2 separate regions of the Homo sapiens genome follow, and region 2 is linked to region 1. Evidence: fine-mapped expression QTL. A gene starts in region 1. The other region holds a variant in brackets. All regions are shown on one strand. Distances are from middle to middle.

What was found. PIP is the estimated chance that this variant, and not a neighbour inherited with it, causes the effect. A credible set is the group of variants that fine-mapping cannot tell apart.
Region 2: its variant is the best candidate, but not a certain one, in a credible set for the expression of COMMD7 in thyroid (GTEx, PIP 0.70).

Annotation. Positions count from the first base shown.
Region 1 is chr20:32,741,336-32,746,798 of GRCh38, reverse strand. COMMD7 (COMM domain containing 7) reads left to right here and starts at 3,332. Exons shown (of 9, transcript NM_053041.3): 1 at 3,332-3,491. The coding sequence starts at 3,408. RefSeq lists enhancers at 1,837-2,781, 3,669-4,496, 5,166-5,463 and silencers at 3,077-3,306, 3,487-3,556, 4,541-4,715.
Region 2 is chr20:32,708,791-32,713,790 of GRCh38, reverse strand. All of the region lies in intron 3 of COMMD7 (COMM domain containing 7), which reads left to right. Among named protein-coding and RNA genes, the nearest start is that of COMMD7, 32 kb to the left of the region's middle. RefSeq lists a silencer at 2,110-2,404 and an enhancer at 4,423-4,929. The variant C/T (reference allele first, on the strand shown) is at 2,734.

The DNA.
Region 1 (5,463 bases):
CTAAAAATACAAAAAATTAGCCAAGCGTGATAGCGGGCACCTGTAGTCCCAGCTACTCGGGAGGCTGAGGCCGGAGAATGGCGTGAACCCGGGAGGCGGAGCTTGCAGTGAGCCGAGATAGCACCACTGCACTCCAGCCTGGGCGACAGAGAGAGACTCCGTCTCAAAAAAAAAAAAAAAGACTGGAAAAGAAGAGTCACCATATTCCTATAGTATTGGGTGTCAGTTTCAAGTGAATTCCTTTCCTTTTCTGTATTTTCTGTCACATGAGCTAATTCCGTTCCACAAATACAGTATTTATCAAGTGACTCAGCACCAGTCACTGTGGAAGCAGAAATGAAAAGAAATCCAGTGGTTTTCTCCAGGATGTTAAAAACAAAACAAAACTTAAAACAGGTTCATTTTATTTTTTATACCTAAACAGTTGATTTAACACTTAAAGATATGAAGAAATGTAATGCCCTGATGGGGATCTTCTTTTTTTTTTCCCCCAACTATTTATTTATTTATTTTTGAACAGAGTCTTGCTCTGTCGCTCAGGCTGGAGTGCAGTGGTGGGATTTCGGCTCACTGCAATCTCTGCCTACTGGGTTCAAGCGATTTTCCTGCCTCAGCCTCTAGAGTAGCCGGGATTACAGGCATGAACCACCATGCCCGGCTAATTTTTGTATTTTTAGTAGAACCAGGGTTTCACTATGTTGGCTAGGCTGGTCTTGAACTCCGGACCTCAGGTGATCCACCGGCCTCAGCCTCCCAGAGTGCTAGGATTACAGGCATGCGTCACTGCGCCCAGCCCAGATCTTCTTTTTTAACAAGGTTAAAAATATTTAAAAATAAAAATTCCGGGCCAGGTGCAGTGGCTCACGCCTGTAATGCCAGCACTTTGGGAGGCTGACGCAGGTGGATCACTTGAGGTCAGGAGTATGAGACCAGCCTGGCCAATGCGGTGAAAACCCATCTCTAGTAAGAAGACAAAAGTTGGGCCAGGTGCGGTGGCTCGCGCCTGTAAACCCAGCACTTTGGGAGGCCGAGGCAGGCGGATCACCTGAGGTGGGGAGTTCAAGACCAGCCTGACCAACATGGAGAAACCCGTCTCTACTAAAAGTACAAAATTAGCCGGGGTGGTGGCACATGCCTGTAATCCCAGCTACTTGGGAGGCTGAGACAGGAGAATCACTTGAACCCGGGAGGCGGAGGTTGCAGTGAGCCGAGATCTCGCCATTGCACTCCAGCCTGGACAAAAAGAGCAAAACTCCGTTTCCAAAAAAAAAAAAAAAAGACAAAAGTTAGCTGGGTTTGGTGGTGGCCACCTGCATTCCCAGCTATTCGGGAGGCTGAGGCTGGAGAATCACTAGAACCCGGGAAGCAGAAATTGCAGTGAGCCGAGATTGTGCCACTGCACTCCAGCCTGGGTGACAGAGCCAGAATCTGTCTCAAAAAAAAAAAAAAAAAAAATTCTTGCACGGTGAGTAGGGCCTCTGAGTTCCTGTCTGTTTGTCACCCGAAGGTTTATTCTCTTCCAGGTACTCCAAACTCGGACTGTGTCCTGTACACATTCTCAAAGCACCTCCTACTTTTTGGCATCCCTTAATACTTTCACACACACTTGCGTCTGCCCCCTGGGTCAATTCTGACTTCTCAGAGGCCAGGCACTGCATCTGGTTCATCTGGTTGTGTCACTGTGGAATCCCCACCCCCTATCATGTCATGGTATCTGCCTCACAGCAGACCTTCTTTTTTTTTTATGGAGATGTGGTCTTGCTCTGTCGCCCAGGCTGGAGTGCAGTGGCGCCATCTGGGTTCACTGCAGTCTCGATCTCAAGATCTCAAGTGATCCTCTTGCCTCAGCCTCCGAGTAGCTGGGACCACAGGCATGTGCCACTCAATATTTGTTGAATGAATGTATGAATGATATAATGACTGAAGGGGATGGGCTTGGCCTTTGGGTAGAAGACTTTTTTGTTTTTTCTTTGAGACGGAGTTTCGCTCTTGTTGCCCAGGCTGGAGTGCAATGGCGCGATCTCGGCTTACCGCAACCTATGCCTCCCGGGTTCAGGGAATTCTCCTGCCTCAGCCTCCCGAGTAGCTGAGATTACAGACATGCACCACTACGCCCGGCTAATTTTGTATTTTTAGTAGAGACGGAGTTTCTCCATGTTGAGGCTGGTCTCAAACTCCTGACCTCAAGTGATCCGCCCGCCTCAGCCTCCCAAAGTGCTGGGATTACAGGAGTGAGCCACCGCGCCGGGCCGGGTAGAAGACATTTTGTTTATACTTTTACAGAAGGGATTTTCAGGAAAGGGTAGAGGAGAGGAGGAGGGCTGGTGAGGAAGGCCAGCCAAACCCCCCACATTTCCCTGCTCCAGGTTTCTCGGCATTACCTCTTTACCCTCAAGGCTGGACTTAGGGGCTAGGTGAAGCCCTTAGGCTTGGCGTTCAGTTCCTAGATTCTGGGTAGCATGTCTCTATTTTCTCATGTTTCCAGTGGGGATTAGGGTAATATTCACCTGGGAACTGTGAGGAGCCCCTGGGAAGAGAGGGCATGGGGGTTAGAGTGTTTGAGGGGCTGCAGTGATGATCACGGTCTCAGTAACCTCCCCTCACCCACCTCACCACCACCCTCCCTGCCCCGCACAGTCAAAGCCCTCGCACTATTTTGAGGAAACTTTGGTAAGTCAGTTTCTTCCACTCCAGAAGGTCTCAAAGTGTAGTCCCTGGGTGCTTATTGGAAATGCAAATTCTCAGGCTCCACCCTGGCCTTTCGAATCAGATCCTCTGGGGGCGGGGCCCGGCAATACCAGGTGATGCTGGGGTGATGCTGATGCCCTTCCAAGGTTGAGACCTAGTCTCTACTCTGATGTCAGCTCTCCGAGAGACACTCTGGCCTGCTTTGTTCCCTTCCCTGTCCCCAGTGTCTGGCATCGAGTAGGCTGCCATAAATATCTCTGGAGTGCATAGTAACAGTGATGATGATAATAGCAGCTAGCCATTGATTGAAGACCTCTTGTGTGCCGGTCTCTGCGTTAAACATTTCTGGAGGCTTAACTCATTTAAGGAGCTACCCCAGCCATCATTTTCTCAGATGGTGAAACTGAGGTTCAGAGAGGCCAAGCGCCGTACCCAAAGGTCACTCAGCGGGAGAGCTGGCAGGAAACCTCGCGTCTGCCGGTGCCGGCGCCGCCCCTGCCCCTCCCCGGAGCCCGGCGGCCGCGCGTGTCCGCGGCCCTGCGAGGGCTCCCCGGCTCCGGACAGCCCAGGGCGGCCGGGGGAGGAGTGCGCTGCGACGGCCGTGGCGAAAGTGCGGTTGTGGATGCGCGGAGAGGCCGGCAGCGGTGGCAGCGGCAGCGGAGGAGGAAGCTGAGCAGGGCGGCGGCGGCGGTGGAACCTGCGGGGCTGGGGCGCGCGCCATGGGCCGCCTGCACTGCACTGAGGACCCGGTGCCGGAGGCCGTGGGCGGCGACATGCAGCAGCTGAACCAGCTGGGCGCGCAGGTGGGCCCGGCGGCGGGGCGTGGGGCGCGGGGCCCAGGTGATTCCAGGATCCGGGCCTGGGGTGGGGGGGACGTCCGGGGGTGCGCGGGAGTTGGGAGAGACTAGACAGAGCGGCGTCTTGTGGGCGTTTGGGGTGTGTGAGGTGGGTTCGGGGCGAGGCTAAGGTGAGCTGGGGTCTGAGGAGAGTGTGGGGAGCCAAGGGATCTCCGGAGGCCTAAGGGCCACCTGAGGGGTCCGAAAGGCTTTGTGGGGTCTCAGAGATGGGACTACGGGACCTCTGCGGGGTCCTGGGGCCGAGGAGAGCTTTTGGGGTCCTAGAAGAGGGACGGAGGGGAGTCTAGATGAGGCTGAAGGAGTTTGGGGAACTGAAGGAACAGACTAAGGGCGTGGGGAGTTTTGGGGAGCAGTGGGGTCCAAAGGGAGATAGATGTTTGGCAGGGAGGCCGAGGAAGCCTGAGGGGAGTGGGAGGGCCCGAGAATCTGAGGGGGCCCGGGGAAGCTTGGCCTGGGCTGCCGTCTTACATCTCAGTGTGACATGAGTGTCAGTAATAGCCAGGCCCCACTGGGGCTCTGTGGGCCTGAGGGGCTCGATCTGGGACAAGGCTGATGACACCTTCCACCTCCACCCAGTTAAGGAGAGTCACTGGGATTCACATGGAAAGAAACCTTATACACTGTGTACAGTGGGGGTCTTCATCCTCGATGGTAGGGGAGCTAGCAAAGCCTTTTTCTCCCCCTTCAGGCTGCAGGTGCCAACCAAGGCAGTCTTGGAGGCATCCTGCTTCTGTGCTGGTTGGGATGCCTTTTCATACCACCAAGGCTGCTGAAATAGGTGAGAATGACACTTCTCACCCCCACTGGGAAGATACATCTATTTCCCCCGCTAGGTTGTCACTTCCCAGGAGGTAGCGCCCCTCTTCTTTCATCTCCATACCCCCCACAACTTCCCACACAGTAGTGCTGCTTGCGAGATAAAAACCAAACTTAGAACTTGTAACGACAGGAAGGTTCTAAGCTTGAGCTATGCAATAGAAAAATTTGCAAGCCACATTTCTAACTTTGCATTTTGTAGTAGCCACATTTAAAAATTAAATAGAAATGGAAATTAATTTTTTTTTTTTGAGACGTAGTCTCATTCTGTCACCCAGGCTGGAGTGCAGTGGCGCGATCTCGGGTCACTGCAACCTCCGCCTCCCAGGTTCAACCAGTTCTCTGTCTCAGTCTCCCGAGTAACTGGGACTACAGGCACACGCCACCATGCCCAGCTAATTTTTGTATTTTTAGTAGAGATGGGGTTTGACCATGTTGGCCAGGCTGGTCTTGAACACCTGACCTCAGGTGATCTGCCCACCTCAGCCTCCCAGAGTGTTGGGATTACAGGCGTGAGCCACTGTGCCCAGCCCTGAGTTTATCTTATGCAAGCATCCTAGAGTTTATTTACACAAACCTACTGCACCCTAGGATATATGGTATAGCGCATTGCTCCTAGGCTACAAACCTATACAGCATGTGACTGTACTGAATACCATAGGCAACTGGACTATAATGGTAAATATTTGTGTGTTTAGACAAATCTAAATAGAAAAGGTACAGTACAAATACAGTATAAAAGATAAAAAATAGGCCGGGCACGGTGGCTCACACCTACCCTAGGACTTTGGGAGGCCAAGGTGGGCGGATCACAAGGTCAGGAGATCGAGACCATCCTGGCCAACATGATGAAACCCTGTCTCTACTAAAAATACAAAAATTAGCTGGGTGTAGTGGCGGGCACTTGTAGTCCCGGCTACTCTGGAGGCTAAGGCAGGAGAATCGCCTGAACCTGAGAGGTGGAGGTTGCAGTAAGCTGCGATTGCACCACTGCATTCCAGCCTGGGCAATAGAGTGAGACTTCATCTCAAAAAAAAAAAAACAACTTTCTAGTTGGGTACGGTGGCACAGCTACCACAGTAGTCCCAGCTACTTGGGAGGC
Region 2 (5,000 bases), 33 kb after region 1:
CTGTGGTCTTTCTCCTGCCAGTAGAATGGAAGCCTCATAAGGGCAGAGATTGTTGTCTGTTCAGTTCATTGATGTTTCCCAGCATCTAGCACAGTGCAGGCACATGGCAGTGCTCAGTAAATGTGCGTGTGTGACTACGGACCTCTGTTCTCTGTGAGCCTCACAGGGTGGCTTCAGCTGGTCAGCCTTCAGGGTCAGTACTGACTGGATGAAAGCAGCTCTCCATCCTCTCCCATCTGCTTCCAGGAGTTTTCACCAAGCCTGTGTCCATTCCTTGGGCTCCCATTTGTACACTGAATAAGAACAATGTTTGCTGTTTTTCCAACCGTCTTGGCAAAACTGAAGTCGTCACCCTCACTTCCCTTTGTTTTGTCCTTCATATTGTTTGACAGCTTTGAGGGTTTGGCTAAGGCAGCAGTTCTGGTGAAAATTGGTGCCTGTTGCCAGGCGCATTGGCGCACGCCTGTAGTCCCAGCACTTTAGGAAGCCGAGGCGGGTGGATCACCTGAGGTCAGGAGTTCACAACCAGCCTGACTAACGTGGTGAAAGCCCATCTCTACTAAATACAAAAAAAAATAGCCAGGCATGGTGGCACATGCCTGTAATCCCAGCTACTTGGGAGGCTGAGACAGGAGAATCTCTTGCACCTGGGAGGCGGAGGTTGCAGTGAGCTGAGATTGCACCATTGTGCTCCAGCCTGGGCAACAAAAGTGAAACTCTGTCTCAAAAAAAAAAAAAAAAGAAATTAAAAAAGAAAGAGGACGGGCACAGTGGCTCACGCCTGTAATCCCAGCACTTTGGGAAGCCAAGGCAGGCGGATCACGAGGTCAGGAGATCGAGACCATCCTGGTCTCTACTAAAAATACAAAAAATTAGCCGGGCATGGTGGTGCGTGCCTATAGTCCCAGCTGCTTGGGAGGGTGAGGCAGGAGAATCACTTGAACCTGGGAGGCAGAGGTTGCAGTGAGCCAAGATTGCACCACTGCATTCCAGTCTGGGGGACAGAGTGAGACTCTGTCTCGAAAAAAAAAAAAAAAAAAGTCTCCGTGTCAAAAAAAAAAAAGGGACCATCTCAAAGTTATCTGTGTTTGAAGAAGGATGTTCTTAAATTTCCCCACGTGTCATGTTCTGCTGACTGCAGCTGTTGGAGTTTACACAATTTTCTTTTTTTTTTTTTTAAAGGTCTGGGGTACATGTGCAGGGTGTGCAGATTTGTTACATAGTATGCCATGGTGGTTTGCTGCACCTGTCAACCCATCACCTAGGTTTTTTTTTTTTTAATTTGAGACGGAATCTTGCTCTGTCACCAGGCTAGAGTGCAGTGGCGCGATCTTGGCTCACTTCAACCTCTGCCTCCTGGGTTCAAGCAATTCTCCTGCCTCAGCCTCCTAAGTAGCTGGGACTACAGATGCATGCCACCATGCCCAGCTAATTTTTATACTTTTTAGTAGATACGGAGTTTCACTACATTGTCCAGGATGGTCTCGATCTCTCTCTTTTTTTTTTTTTTTTTTTTTTTTTGAGACGGAGTCTTGCTCTGTGGCCCAGGCTGGAGTGCAATGGCACGATCTCGGCTCACTGCAACCTCTGCCTCCCGGGTGCAAGCAATTCTCCTGTCTCAGCCTCCTGAGTAGCTGGGATTACAGGCGCCTGCCACCACGCCCGGCTAATTTTTGTATTTTTAGTAGAGATGGGGTTTCATCATGTTGGTCAGGCTGGTCTCGAACTCCTGACCTCATGATCTGCCCACCTCGGACTCCCAAAGTGCTGGGATTACAGGCATGAGCCATCGTGCCCAGCCCTCAGTCTCGATCTCTTGACCTTGTGATCCACCCGCCTCGGCCTCCGAAAGTGCTGGGATTACAGGCACGAGCCACCACGCCCAGCCCATCACCTAAGTATTAAGCCCAGCATGGAATAACTATTTTTCCTAATGCTATCCCTCCCCCCACCCCACCCTCCAAGAGGCCCCACACAATTTTCATTCTGTCTGACATAAGGTCAAATGTTGCAGGTCTGTCTTGTGGCTGGCATTTGCTTAGGACAAAGGAATCACCACAGGAAAAAGCTGAAAAAGAAGTTAAGAGCTTGAGGCCTAGCATGATGCCAATCCATGTTTCAAGTCTGGCCTCTGCCCTCCAGAGGTAACTTCAGGATGGAGAGCTTGCTCTTCCATCCCTGCAGCTTTGTTGACTTCATTGTCAGCAACTGTCAAGGCATTGCCTGATACCGCAGCACCAAGATAGCGTCTGAGAATGACCTGGTGTAGAAAGAACTTGGTGTGGGGACCCTCTGGCCTATAAGCCACTTGGCTCTGTCAGTTGCTGACTGTTGTGGCCTTGTTCCTTTAACTGTTTCCTTTTTTTTTTTTTTTTAAGTAACATTTTTTTTTTTTAGACAGAGTCTCACTCCGTCGTCCAGGCTGGAGTGCAGTGGTGTGATCTCGGCTCACTGCAACCTCTGCCTCCCAGGTTTAAGCGATTCTCCTACCTCAGCCTCCCAAGTAGCTGGGACTACAGGCGTGTGCCACCACGCCCAGCTAATTTTTGTATTTTTAGTGGAGACGGGGTTTCACCACGTTGACCAGGCTGGTCTCAAACTCCTGACCTCAAGTGATCCACCCGCCTCAGCCTCCCAAAGTGCTGGGATTATGGGCGTGAGCCACCACCCCCGGCCAAAGTAACACTTATTTTTATTTATTTATTTTTAGAGATAGAGTCTTGCTCTGTCACC[C/T]AGGCTGGAGTGAAGTGGTGCCATCATGGCTCACTGCAGCCTCAAACTTCTGGGCTCAAGCGATCCTCCTATTTTAGCCTCCTGAGCAGCTGGATTACAGGTGTGCACCTCCACACCCAAGTAATTTTTTATTTTTATTTTTGTAGAGGCAGGGTTTTGCTATGATGCCCAGGCTAGTCTCAAATTCCTAGCCTCAAGCAATCCTCTCACCTCAGCTTCCCAAAGTGCTGGGATTATAGGTGCCTTTCCTTTTTTTCTTGACATTATATTATGCAGATTGGTCCATCAACAGCTACTGAGCTACATCTATTTTTTTTTTTTTTTTTTTTGAGATGAGGTCTCACCCTGTTACATAGGCTGGAGTGCAGTGATGCAATTATGGTTCACTGTAGCCTCAACCTCCTGGGCTCAAGCCATCCTCCCACCTCAGCCTCCTGAGTAGCTGGGACCACAGGCCTGTGCCACTATACCTTGCTAATTTTTTTATTTTGTAGAGATGGGGTCTCCCTGTATTGCCCAGACTGGTCTTGAACCCCTGGGCTCAGGTATCCTCCCACCTCAGCCTCCCAAAGTGCTGGGATGACAGCACTTGGCCTTACATAATTTTTTTTAAGCCTGGATAGCAATCCATTGTAAGGATTCTTGCATTCAACGTGCTTTTATTGAGTGCCAACCAATAAACTTTGCCAGGCATTTCTCTCAGAGCTTGGGACACAGCAGTAGGCAAAATGAGCCTAGTCTTTGTTCTTATCAAGCTGGTGTTCTAGTGGAAAAATTGATAATAAATATATAACATAAAGTTGGGTAGTTATAAATGCAATGCAGAATATCCCACAGCATTATACGAGTATGAGTAAAGGGCAGTGCTATTTAAATTAGAATGAGGCTGGGATTGGCAGCTCATGCCTGTAATCCCAGCATTTTGAGAGGCCAAGGTGGGAGTATTGCTTGAGTGCGGGAGTTTGAGCTGGCAAGATAGTGAGACTCTATCTCTAGAAAAAAAAATTAAAAATTAGTCAAGCATTGTGGAGCATGCCTGTAGTCCCAGCTACTTAGGAGCCTGAGGTGGGAGGATCCATTAAGCCCAGGAGGTCAAGGCTGTAATGAGCCGTGATTACACCACCGCACTCCAGCCTGGGTGACAGAATGAGATTAAAAAAAAAAAAAAGTAAAAAAAGAAAAAATGTGAAATAGAATGGTCGGGGATCCTTTCTGAGGAGGTAAGAGTCAGGCAGAACCCTGAATGAAGCGAAGGGATGAGCTATGTGCAGAGAACTGCAAGGGCAAATGGCCAGGGGTAGAAAGCTGTCTGGCATATTCTAAAAATAGCACAGTAAGCAAGGGAGAGAGCCTAGGGGTTCTAAGAGGAGGCCAGAGCATGCAGGGTGTTGTACAACCTTTGGATTTTACTGTGAGTGAAATAGGAGATAGTAGAGGGTTTTGAGCAGAAAAAATAGCATGGTCTGACCTGAGGTTTTTGTTTGTTGTTTTTGTCATCGTTTGTTTTTGAGACGGAGTCTCGCTCTGTCGCCCAGGCTTGAGTGCAGTGGCAGATCTCGGCTCACGGCAACCTCCACCTGCCAGGCTCAGATGATTCTCCTGCCTCACCCTCCTGGCTAATTTTGTAACAGGCGCCCAGCCTGTTTTTTTTTTTTTTTGAGACAGAGTTGCTCTGTTGCCAGGCTGTAATGCAGTGGTGCCGTCTCTGCTCACTGCACCCTCAGCCTCCCAAGTAGCTGGGACTACAGGCGCATGCCACCACACCCGGCTAATTTTTGTACTTTTAGTAGAGACGGGGTTTTGCCACGTTGGCCAGGCTGGTCTCGAACTACTGACCTCAAGTGATCCACCCCCTCAGCCTCCCAAAGTGCTGGCATTACAGGCATGAGCCACCGTGCCTGGTCTCTCCATGACCTTTCATCCCTACTATCCACATTGCTAAAGAGCTTCCCCTGTATATCTCAGCGTGCTTTTGGGTGCAGCTTGGTTGGGTGAATTCTTGGCAGTGCAATTCTTGACTATCTGCATTTGCCAAATTTTCTCCCAAAAATGCTTAATGTTTCCTGGTAAACTAAGTTAAAATAATAGCTGGGCATGGTGGCTCATGTCTGTAATCCCAGCACTTTGGGAGGCCAAGGTGGGTGGATTGCTTGAGGTCAGGAGTTTGAGACCAGCCTGGGCAACATGGCAAGACCCTGTCCCTACAAAAATTCAAAAAATTAGCTGGGCATCATGGCACACGCCTGTAGTCCCAGCTATGTGGGAGG